2 linked regions of the Homo sapiens genome follow. The protein of the gene in region 2 purifies or fractionates together with the protein of the main gene of each other region. This does not show direct contact. Each region holds a gene or a part of one and is shown on either strand. Other genes may lie near its edges.

Region 1 (4,741 bases), on a different chromosome or scaffold from region 2:
TAGCTACAGTGGTTTGTATTTTAAAGAAATAACCCACATCAAACCCTTTTTCTTCTTTTCAGGCAGCCATTAGCACCAACCAGGGAGTAAAACTTTATTCCCAAGTATGTCATACGAGCAGTCTATAACTGATTTCAGGAGCAAGGACCCAGAACATAAAGTAGCGCCATGAGAATGGTAATTTGGGTGGTATCAGAATAGGCTGCTCTAGAAGATAGGGCTAAGCAGTATCTGGCTGTTCTGGGACTCATCATTGCAAGGAGAAATCTTGCTTGAACTCCCCAGGAATTAAATGCTAGCTCTAAGGAGTAGTTCCCTAACGCAGCTGTAGCTTTTGGAGTTTGAAAGTGCACACACGGGAATTGGAATCAATTACAGAGCTCTGGCAATAGCTTTTGGCCATGTCACCATGCACAGGACCTCTCTGTGGCATTGACTCTGACCCCTGGCACAAGTTTGTGATCTGTGAAAGGGTAGCTTTCATATTAGGTGTGGTCCCTCTCTGGACCCTTTATCCTTACCTCAGTTTTACTCGTTTTTTGTTTTGTATCCCTGCTTCTGAAAACCTTAATAATTATGTCAGTTAATATTCACGGAATATTTACTATGTGCCGGACACTATGTTAAGCCTTTTACCTGAGAGTGTGAACTCTTATACTCCCCATTTTAAAGATAGAGAAACTGAGATTTAATGAAGCTTTCAATATTAGCCCCAAAGTCACCCAGCCACTAGATGGCAAGTCCTGGATTCAACTCAGGTTTCTCTGACCTTTGAGGCTAACATAGTGTTCTTCCTTTGCTTTTAGTAAAGAAAGGACATTCTTTCCTTTACCTTTGATGGGTGTTTTTTTCTACTGGAAAATAAAACGTAGAGTAGGTTGTAAATTTTACTCCCTGTCTTGTGATTCCCAGATTTTGTCTTCTCTAAAATCTGCCTTTATTAATGATAATAGCTAACAATTATATACAATGTGCCATGAAGTGTTTTAAGTATTTTCCATTTATTAACTCAAATCCTATTCGGTAGGCATTATTGTTCTCATTTTATAGAAGAATAAACTGAGGTGCAGAGAGGTTCAATAGCTTGCCTGGGGTTGTAAAGCTAGTAAATGGCATAGATAGGATTCAAATGCAGGCAGTCAAGTGCCAAGGTGCATGTTCTGTAACCATTGCATGCTCTGCCTTTGTGTTGGCATTGGCTCTGGCACTGCATACACCAGAGCAGAGACTGATCTTCCATTTGCAGTTTGAACACGGGTCACCTTCCTCAAGGACTCCTGTCAAGGGGACTCTATATTGACTTTGTTCTTTGCTTTACAGCCTAACATAGCAAATTTCTTGAGTACCCTCCCGATTTGGCTAACAAAATCCCCTCAAAATAGAAAAGATAGGAAGAGAGGGAATGAAAATGAAATATATTTTTAAAATACCTTTGGTAGTGTTCAGAAGTCTCACCAATTTAAGCAGACCAGATTAATGTTGGCAGAAAACAGCTTTATCAGGTTACCAAAGCAAGCATAGGTACCCTACAGAGCCAAGGCTGTCCCAGAGAGGTAGTCTCTGTGATTGCTGTTCCCTGCCCCCAAGGTCTCTGGTATTTATTCATCCATGGAAAGAAAAATCTGCATGCCCTTCTGAGTCCCACAGTAAGATCCATCCTAACAGAGCAGAAGGGCAGGATGGGGAGGCACACCAGGAATGCCTCTGAAAAATAAATGTCTCAAAGATTGATGGCTTGATGATCTCTTTGGAGATTATATCAAAAATTATTGATTATGTTAGTAAGTCGTAGAAAATAGGCTCTGAGGTTGGGAACTAAGTGCTTTCTTTAAAATAATCTAGAAGCAGTAGAATAAATCAATGTGCAGAGCATCTAAAATACTGTATCATATTGGCTTCACAAATAGCTTGGCTTCAATGTGGAAAGGGCAATATTATTTTTAAAAAAAACTTCAACAGTTGTCTTGGCATGCTAAAAAGAAAAGAAGACAAAATTCAATTCTATTATTTGCTTTGCAAAATTTTACAACATTCCTAGCTTCTAGCATTCATTTATTTCCTAATCAGTGGGAAAACTGCAAGGCTTTTTAAAATAATTTGTGCCAGATAGGGCTTTTTTTTTTTCCTTTGCCACAATAAAGATACAAAAGCCTTAAAAGATATTTTGTTTTCAACAACTGAATTTGACAAACTTAGTCCTGCTCAGTTTTTTGGTGGTAGGTCTGAATTTCAGTATGTGATAATACTACTCCATTTATGCTTGTTTTGAAATATTTTCTATTTGCATTTAAGACCACCGATTCCGGTTTTTAAGAAAACAATTCCAGCAATGTATCTTGCTGAAAGAAAAACTCACTATGCAAAAGCACCAATTTTTGAATAGTTAAATTGAATGATACATTTTCATATTATGATAGCATTCTTTGCCTTGAAAGATTCACAGAAAGATTTGTAAAAAGTAACTATCCCCTTAGGGCACTTTAATGTTTATTTATAAACAGTTAACTACTTAGAGGAAGAAATAACACCAGGGAGAGTAATATGGTGTCAGAAAAGGAAGATGACTCCAAAATAATGATAAACCACAGCTCTAAAATTTTAATGTAACTTAATGAAAACTAATTCAATTGAAGCGTGTTTCAGTTTGGTATTAGCTCTGAACCTGGGAAACTTGAGTCCTGGCATTAGGGGAATCTCTTCATTTTATGGACCCTGGTTTCTTCATCTGTAAACTCAGGAGATTGGAACAGATGATCTTTAAGGCTCCTTTGAACCTGTATAATTTCTTGATTCAGTTTCCTGAAGTAAGATGTGCTTTTTGTTGGGGAATAGGAAACGGAGCATATTAAAGGCATCTGGGCCTCTGGTTACATTAGTACTTAGGGTTCTGTTCAACAAACCAGTGTTGTTTGCTTCCTGTGTGGTGGGTGCTGTACTGGATGCTGGGAATAGAGTGATGTACTTCCCATCAGGTTTCCTTAAGTAGAAGTTCAAAGTGTGAATGAGGGGGCAGACTCAGAAAAGTTCAGTTGAACTGTATTTTTCATGGGGGAAGTTTTCCTCTCTGATGACCATGGAGTCTAGACTCCTTGGGCTAAGGATCGGCAAAATTACTGTTACAGGAAGTCTTCTCAGCACAGGATAGTGAGTGGGAAATAAGGCAGAAACTTTATTTGTATTTCTCTGGAGCATTCTGGGAGTGATCCCAGTATTTCACCTTGAGAGAGTGTAACCTAACCTTCACATTCCCTTACGAGAGACTCGCTTACTTTACCGTGTTCACATGTCCACAGTGAGCCTAAAAATGTCTCCACTGCTTTGGAGCCTTTTGAGATGATGAAATAGAGACTCCTGAGGCATACAAAATACTATTAAAGCTTCTGCTAGTGTACTTCTGTGATCACTACAGAGAGGTTCTTTTGCTCCCATATTTCAGTTGACTGTGCTCTACAAAGTAGACACCCCAATCACACTGTGGGCTTCGCCACTCTGCTAGGTAGGACATTTGAACCTACTGCATCCAGAAAACCCCAAATGTATCATTTTCTTAATAAAGTTTCCTTTGAAATGACCAGCAGCCCAGTGATGTCTTTCTAGGAACTTACTGAGCAGGGTCACCAGCGGCCATCTGACTTGGTCCCTGCCCTAGTTACCAGAGCTGCTGTCCACAGGCTGCCTGTTCCACTTACTTAGCATATGCAATGTCTCTAAAGAACTGCATGTGAAATTAACTTCCTTTATAGACGCTTACTCCCTTTTTCAGCTTTTCATTTTTGCTGTCTATTAATGCCTGTAAAGTCCCTAAATTAAACTTGACTTTTTCTATCTGTAACTCCATGTTTTCTACGGGATACTTCAGCAAATGATAGCAGCAAGATATCTTACATTCCCAGGCAGAACCAGCATTTGCATGCTCAGGGTTTCACTTCAGGAGAGTCTCCTGTAAGGTGGAGCTGAAAAAAAAAAAAAAAGAAAAGCCTTGTGGGGTATGGAGAGAGCCTGAGCTCTAATCTAGAGTCTGCTAGACTCTATCAATGACTATTAAATTTAGACAGTTTCCACAGTTTCATGACTATGTGGGTTAAAAGGTAAAAACTTTTTCCTATTTTAGCCAGTAAAATTAATCAAGGAGAGGGGAGAAAGGAGGTATTCAACAAGAAAAAGTTAAGTCTATTTAGACTTAACTAATAAAGTCGAGATAGGAAAATGAGGTTTTATATTATCATTAACAAAAAGGTTATAATAATATGTGCCTTGCTAACCTTGGATATGAAAGGGTTTTATAAACCATACAATTTGTAATATTTTAATATGTTAAACTCCTGTAGGGATTTTTTTTTTTTTCAGTTTGCAGCCAATAACTAGAACTACATTAAAACCAGAGAGGAGATAACCAAAAAGATATGCTGGGGGCAGGGATGGGTTGTACTTTTTAAAATCAATGACATATGTTGACTATTTCATTAGAATTAAATTATGTCATATATGCTTCTAGGATCCTTAATTATTTCATTCTTGCTTGCAGGTAATTTTGAGAGAGTGATTGTGTGATGGGGAAAAGCATGGATTTTAGAGAAAGATTAAGGTCTGAGATCCTGCTTTACTACTTGCCGGCTGGGGAACATTGTTTGGGCAAATGTCTCAACTAAATAGATTAACTTCTCTGACCCTCAGTTTTCTAATATGTCATTGGGTAAAATAGTACCTATTACTTAGGATTATCATGAAGATTAAATACAAC
Region 2 (5,991 bases):
TTTCAATGCTCAGTTGAAAGTGTGTCCCTGGAAAATGGCCATCTGCGAGTGACTGCGGGTGCACTTTCCCCTAGGAGCCTGTGGCCCTGCAGGCAGCACCGGGAGCACCCCTGGGGCTGGGCCTGGGGCTGACAATGGGGCTCCAGAGTGTGGAACGTTTTCTAGAACTCTGTGGCTGAGAACCATGAGGCAGCCGGTGCCCACTCAGCCAAGTCCCCCAGAAGGCCCCTGTGCCCACTGCCCAGGCCCACCAGCCACTCGCACTGAATGCGAGGCCCCCACCCACTCCACCAGCACTGGCACTGAGACCCAAGGGGAGCTGGGCTTGGGTCCAGCTGCTCCAGGTGAGCTGGCTGGGGAGGAGGATGAATAGGGCTCAGAGTGGAAGGCCACAGCTGGAGCGCCAATCGTGCTGCCCCTTCTCATAGGACCCCTATGACCCACAGATGGCAGGGACCTCAGGAGAGATGCTACTCTCCATAAAGGCAAAAACAAAGCCTCACACACCTACTTTTATCAAACAAAAGTACAAAAGCAGTTGCTGTAAGAAATATTTCTTCAGTTCATTACCACAATTTATGTACACGTTCAACGCCAGGTTTTTCTTCACTGCTTATTTCTAGGAAATGGTCTATGGTGGAAACGTCTTCAGCTGCCTGCTGGACTGTTATTTCTTGAAAAGCACACTTTAAAATGTTCTCATAGCTGAGAATGGGCTGAAAAGAAAAGAAGAAAAGCATACCAAAGTTAGGAGAAAGACATACATAACGTTACCTTATTCCAAAGAAATAATTGTGATAGAAATGAAATTTGTAATTGATCATACCATTAGTGTTACTATCACTTGACATATTCATTCCTAAAAATCACCAAGTTAGCAAAATCACACAAAACCAGAGGACTCATGGGAAAGGTGGGGTTAGGGCAAAACATTCAAACTTCATCAGTGACACATGAAAAAAGATGACCACCCAATAATGTCAGTGCTGTTTTCCAGTTTGGTTAAGAAATTATACATGCGGCCGGGCGCGGTGGCTCACGCCTGTAATCCCAGCACTTTGGGAGCCCCAGGTGGGCAGATCACGAGGTCAGGAGTTCGAGACCAGCCTGGCCAACATGGTGAAACCCCCATCTCTACTAAAAATACAAAAATTAGCTGGGTGTGGTGGTACACGCCTATAATCCCAGCTACTTAGGAGGCTGAGGCAGGAGAATCGCTTGAATCCGGCGGGTGGGGGGCAGAAGTTGCAGTGAGCCGAGATTGTGCCACTGCACTCCAGCCTGGGTGACAGAGAGAGACTCCGTCTCAAAAAAAAAAAAAAAGAAATTATACATACTACAGTAAGCACAGCACTTTACCTTGGAAAAGACAAAGGCTCGCAGGCTGAGTTAGTGTGAAGGGGTAGGAGGAGGGTGGTCTGAACCGGGTGAAGTCCTAACACCAGGTGTTGACAGGTGTGCTACATTGGGGCACTAAGCGCTGTGTGAGGGTGTACGTGTGCGAGTCTCATGTATTCCAACGGGCCCCAGCTCAGCTGGGGGCAGTTTTCTGCATTTATCTACTCTTTCTTGTGAAATTTCAACTATGCTCTAATTGTTCCCTAATACATCAATCACGCTGGAAAACAAATCCTGTATTCAAAACAAGCATTACAGCAGACCTTACTCTATTAAGAGTGGATCTCATCAGGATTCCAGGGAAACTGCTTCAGAAAACAGTCCGGCCGGGCATGGTGGCTCACGCCTGTAATCCCAGCACTTTGAGAGGCCGAGGCGGGCGGATCACCTGAGGTCAGGAGTTCAAGACCAGCCTGGCAAACATGGTAAAACCCAGTCTCTACTAAACATACATATATATATATATATATAAAAAGTTAGCCGGGCGTGGTGGTGGATGCCTGTAATCCCAGCTACTCAGGAGGCTAAGGCAGGAGAACTGCTTGAACCCAGGAGACAGAGGTTGCAGTGAGCCGACACAGTGCCACTGCACTCCAGCCTCAGCGACAGAGTGAGGCTGTCTCAAAAAAAAAAAAAAAAAAAAAAAAAAAAAAAGAAAAGGAAGAGAAAACAGGCCAGCCCTGAGAACTACAATATCTTTATTTCCTTCCTCACTGGTTTTATTTCTGATCTCTCATGATGGTGCTTGGGATGAACCATTTGGGAAGAAGTGGCAGAGAAAGAGGAACAATGGAAGGAAGAAGACAGGAAAAGAGAAGGAGCGGAAGTGTCACCAAACGGTAAACACCCACAGTCTGCTCTGAAAGAGAGCAGGGGGCAGGGGCCTGAAGGCTGGGACCCTGGCTCCCGGACAGGTCGGAATGGGCATCACCCAATTCATTACAAGCTCCCGGACAGGTTGGATCCCGCGTCACCCAATTCATTACAAGCAAGTTGAAATGTGATCATGTGATTTTAGAATCTCTGAGACTTTTGAACTCAGCAGATTCAGAATTCAGACAAAAAGCTCCTCCTCAAATGCCCTGAGCTGGGGCCAGTGCAGCCCCCACCAATGGGGAATGGACAGGCTGGGGGAGGAATGGTCAGAAAGAGCGACCCAGCTCAGGTGGCCCCCACCTGGCCTTCGTGTGACCCATTTCTGCAGCCTCCTCTGCCAACTCATTGCTTCCCTGGCCTCAGGATGGGACTGCCAACCACATGGCCAGGGACGAAGGCCAGGAGAGAAGCAGACGCTCTGGGGCTGTCAGCCCCCTCCCTGGCCAGCACGCCACAGCATTCGAGGGCTGTAGGCCTCTTGGTGTGTACACGTCCCACTCAACATGGTGACCACAGCACAGCAGAAATACCTCAGAAGGTGGGACGGCAGAAGTTCCTGTCACCCAAGGTCCACCCTGGCATGGTTGGTGAGAACTGCACTCTTTTGGGGCAGAAGTGGTTCTCGGTGGCTGGGGTTCTGTGGGTCCCTCGAGGAGTTCAAGGGACTGTGAGAATTGTCCAGACTTGGCTGAAGATTCCCGAAAGCCTTCAAACTCCCCCCAAGTGCTGCTGTGTTCCCCAGGGTCAGGACATCGGGCAGTGCAGGTGGAACCGCCCTCACGGGGCATGGAGATGCTGGCTTTCCCATCGGACAGGAGAAGGTCGGGGCAGGTCCGTCTCCATTCCAAACTGTCATCACTCAGCCTCTCAGGTGCCACTCGGAGGGAAGCGCTGGCTGCTTCCTCCTGGAGGTCACTCAAAGGCTCTCCCCCCAGCTCCCGCCGGCCTTGCATCTTGGAGCCCCCAGGCCAGCAGAGGCCCGATGGGCAGCTGCTCAGGAGACATGCACGCCGGGGTGCTGGCCGCCCAGGACTGCCCAACCTTCCCCTGCCCTGGAGAGGGCCAGGGGACGCTGCAGGAGTGCCCCGGGCTGCCCAGTGGCTGACGGTGGAAAGTGCCCACGTGCTGCTGTGGAACTGACACAAACCACAGGAATGGCCCGGTCGCCCGGGAGTCCTGGCTTCCTCCCACGCAGGCGGGCGCGGAGTCCGACACAGAGGCGCGTACCAGACCCACGGCAGGTGTGAGAGGGGCGGCCCAAGGTGGGGCTCCTGCTCTGGAGAGAGCCGCGAGGGGGCCTGGGAGGCCCACGCTGGCCAGAGGAGCGAGAGCCGGGCGCCCGCGGGAGTCCCAAGTGGGAAGGAGTGGGTGCGGCGCCCCGGGGCCTCCCGAGAGTCCCTCTCGCACGCGGCCCGCAGAGCAGCCCTGGAACGCCTGGGCCTGGACAGGGCCCGAGGTGGCCGGCTAAGCGCCTGGCCCACGGCTCCCGAGAGTCCCCGCACCCACCTTGGTCGCCGCCTCGGCGGGGCCGCGCGGGACCAGGGCGAGAGAAACCTGCAACCAGCCGTTCCCTCCTGCCTGCGCCGCCCCGTTGCCTGGCAACGGCGTGCGCCAGCTCCGCTTCCGGCGTCCGTCGCCGTGGCGTCAGCACGCATCCGGGGCGAGGCCAGCGCCGGCCCCCGCCGTTCAGGACCCGCCCCGGACCCGCCCTCCCTGCCCCGGGCCGCCTCCGCTGCGGGTGGGATCGGGCTTCCACACTGGCCGAGCCCTGGGCGCCGGGCCGCTCGAGCTTTCTGTCCGTGCTCAGTTCGCCGCCCGAGTGGTTCTTTCTTTTTTTTTTTTTTCTTTTTTTTTTGAGACGGAGTCTCGCTCTGTCGCCCAGGCTGGAGAGCAGTGGCGCGATCTCGACTCACTGCAAGCTCCGCCTCCCGGGTTCACGCCATTCTCCTGCCTCAGCCTCCCGAGTAGCTGGGACTACAGGCGCCCGCCACCACGCCCGGCTGATTTTTTTGTATTTTAATAGAGACTGGGTTTCACCGTGTTAGCCAGGATGGTCTCGATTTCCTGACCTCGTGATCCGCCCGCCTCGGCCTCCCAAAGTGCTGGGATTACAGGCTTGAGCCACTGGGCCTGGCCCTAGAGTGGTTCTTTCTTCCTCACGACGAGCTCCCCAGGTCCGTCCCAGCGCACCCGTCACCCGCAGCCCCTTCTCCCGGCGCCCCGCAGCCTAACTTGCCGCGCCGCCGACCCCTCTGTGGGTGCAGCTGAGCGACGGCCCCTCAGGACCCCACCTGTCCCTGGCGAGAGCCAAGTCCGTCTTGCTGACTCCTGAATCCCAAAACCTCGCCCGCCCCTAACTCGTCCCCATTCCTGGGGGAAGGAGCTGCGGGGAGGCTCCACCCCTCCCTCGCAGGCCGCATGGAGTGCTCCCCTCCTTTGTCACCAGCCAGACCCGGGCAGAGCAGGGCTGACGGACAGCCCCTCTCCAGCCACTGGACGACCAAGGAGCTAGGCTGGCCTCTGGCAGCTCCCCTCCGGGCTTCCAGGCCTTCTGCCATCTGCCCTCACCCCCAGACTCAAGGAGTCAACCTTGACTCCATCTCCTCCCTGGCCTTCCCAGACTGGCCCCCATCACTGCCTCCTCTGGGTAAGGGGAGGGCCTGGCCCTGGTGAAGCCCTGAACCATGCCACCTACTGTCCACCCCCTATCTACCTCAGGCTCGCATTTCTCCCACCCTGGGGCCTGGGGCCCTGCCTGGACTCTGTCCTTGCTTGAATCACCCCTTCCCTCCCTGGTCCTTCTCAGCCAAGCTACAGAACAATTTAATTTTACAAATGACAAGATGAGATCATTCTCTGCACCTTAGACCCAGCCTCCTGTCCCCGCTCCTTCCTGAGGGGCAGAGCAGCCGGGCCATGCAGTATGGAAGCTCTTCGGTCAGACTGCCCAGGACTGGATCTTGGCTTGGCCACCCCAGCACCGCAGTGACCCTAAGGATGGTGATCAGGAGCTGGCTGGGTTTGTAGACCAGGCCTGGGCCTGTCTTGCCAGCTTAAGGGCAGTGTCCGTTCCCACTGCTGCCCCTCATCCACTGCACGTCCTTGCCGTCCTTGAGGCCCAGGGAGCTGGGAGGGGGGCAGGAGGAGTGTTGTCCTTGTGTACAGGTGGGGAAACTGAGGCCCCACCCCAAAGGCCTGCGTGAGAAGCAGAGCTGGGACAGGAGCTGCTCTCCTCGTTCTCTGCAATTCCCCACCCCCGTCTGGGCCTCAGCTTCCACGTGAAGAGCGTGGGGAGCACAGTACTCCCAGGGTGGTTGGAGGATAGAAATGACCCATATGGGTTGAAGAGCTGGTGTGGCAGTTGAACAGCCCCACAGAGATGTCCACATCCTAACCCCTGGAACCTGTGGCTATGTGACCTTACAGGGTCAAAGACACTTTATAGATGGGCTTAAATTAAGGCTCTTGAGAGGAGGAGTGGAGCCTGGATGAGGCATGTAATCACAAAGGTCCTGAGAAGGAAGCAGGAAGGTCAGAGTCAGAGAGGAGACGCAAAGATGGAAGCAGAGCCGGAGTGATACGAGACTGCAGATGCCTCTGGAGGCTGAAGGGACCAGAAAACAGATCTCCCCTGAAGCCTCCAGAAGGCACACCATCCTGCCCACACCTAGAACTGGAGTTGATAAATGCGCACATGCTGTTTTCAACCACTGTGTC

What was found. The genes of interacting proteins can lie anywhere in the genome.
Region 1: the proteins of CLBA1 (region 2) and FAT3 purify together in Homo sapiens (affinity purification with mass spectrometry; one large-scale study listed by BioGRID and IntAct). This does not show direct contact.

What each region holds. Positions count from the first base shown.
Region 1 is NC_000011.10:92,346,024-92,350,764, forward strand, and holds part of FAT3 (protocadherin Fat 3 isoform 1 precursor), read left to right. Parts: intron 1-4,741.
Region 2 is NC_000014.9:104,983,668-104,989,658, reverse strand, and holds the start of CLBA1 (uncharacterized protein CLBA1), read right to left. Parts: upstream 3,872-5,991; 5' UTR 3,228-3,871; coding exon 2,805-3,227; intron 717-2,804; coding exon 571-716; intron 1-570.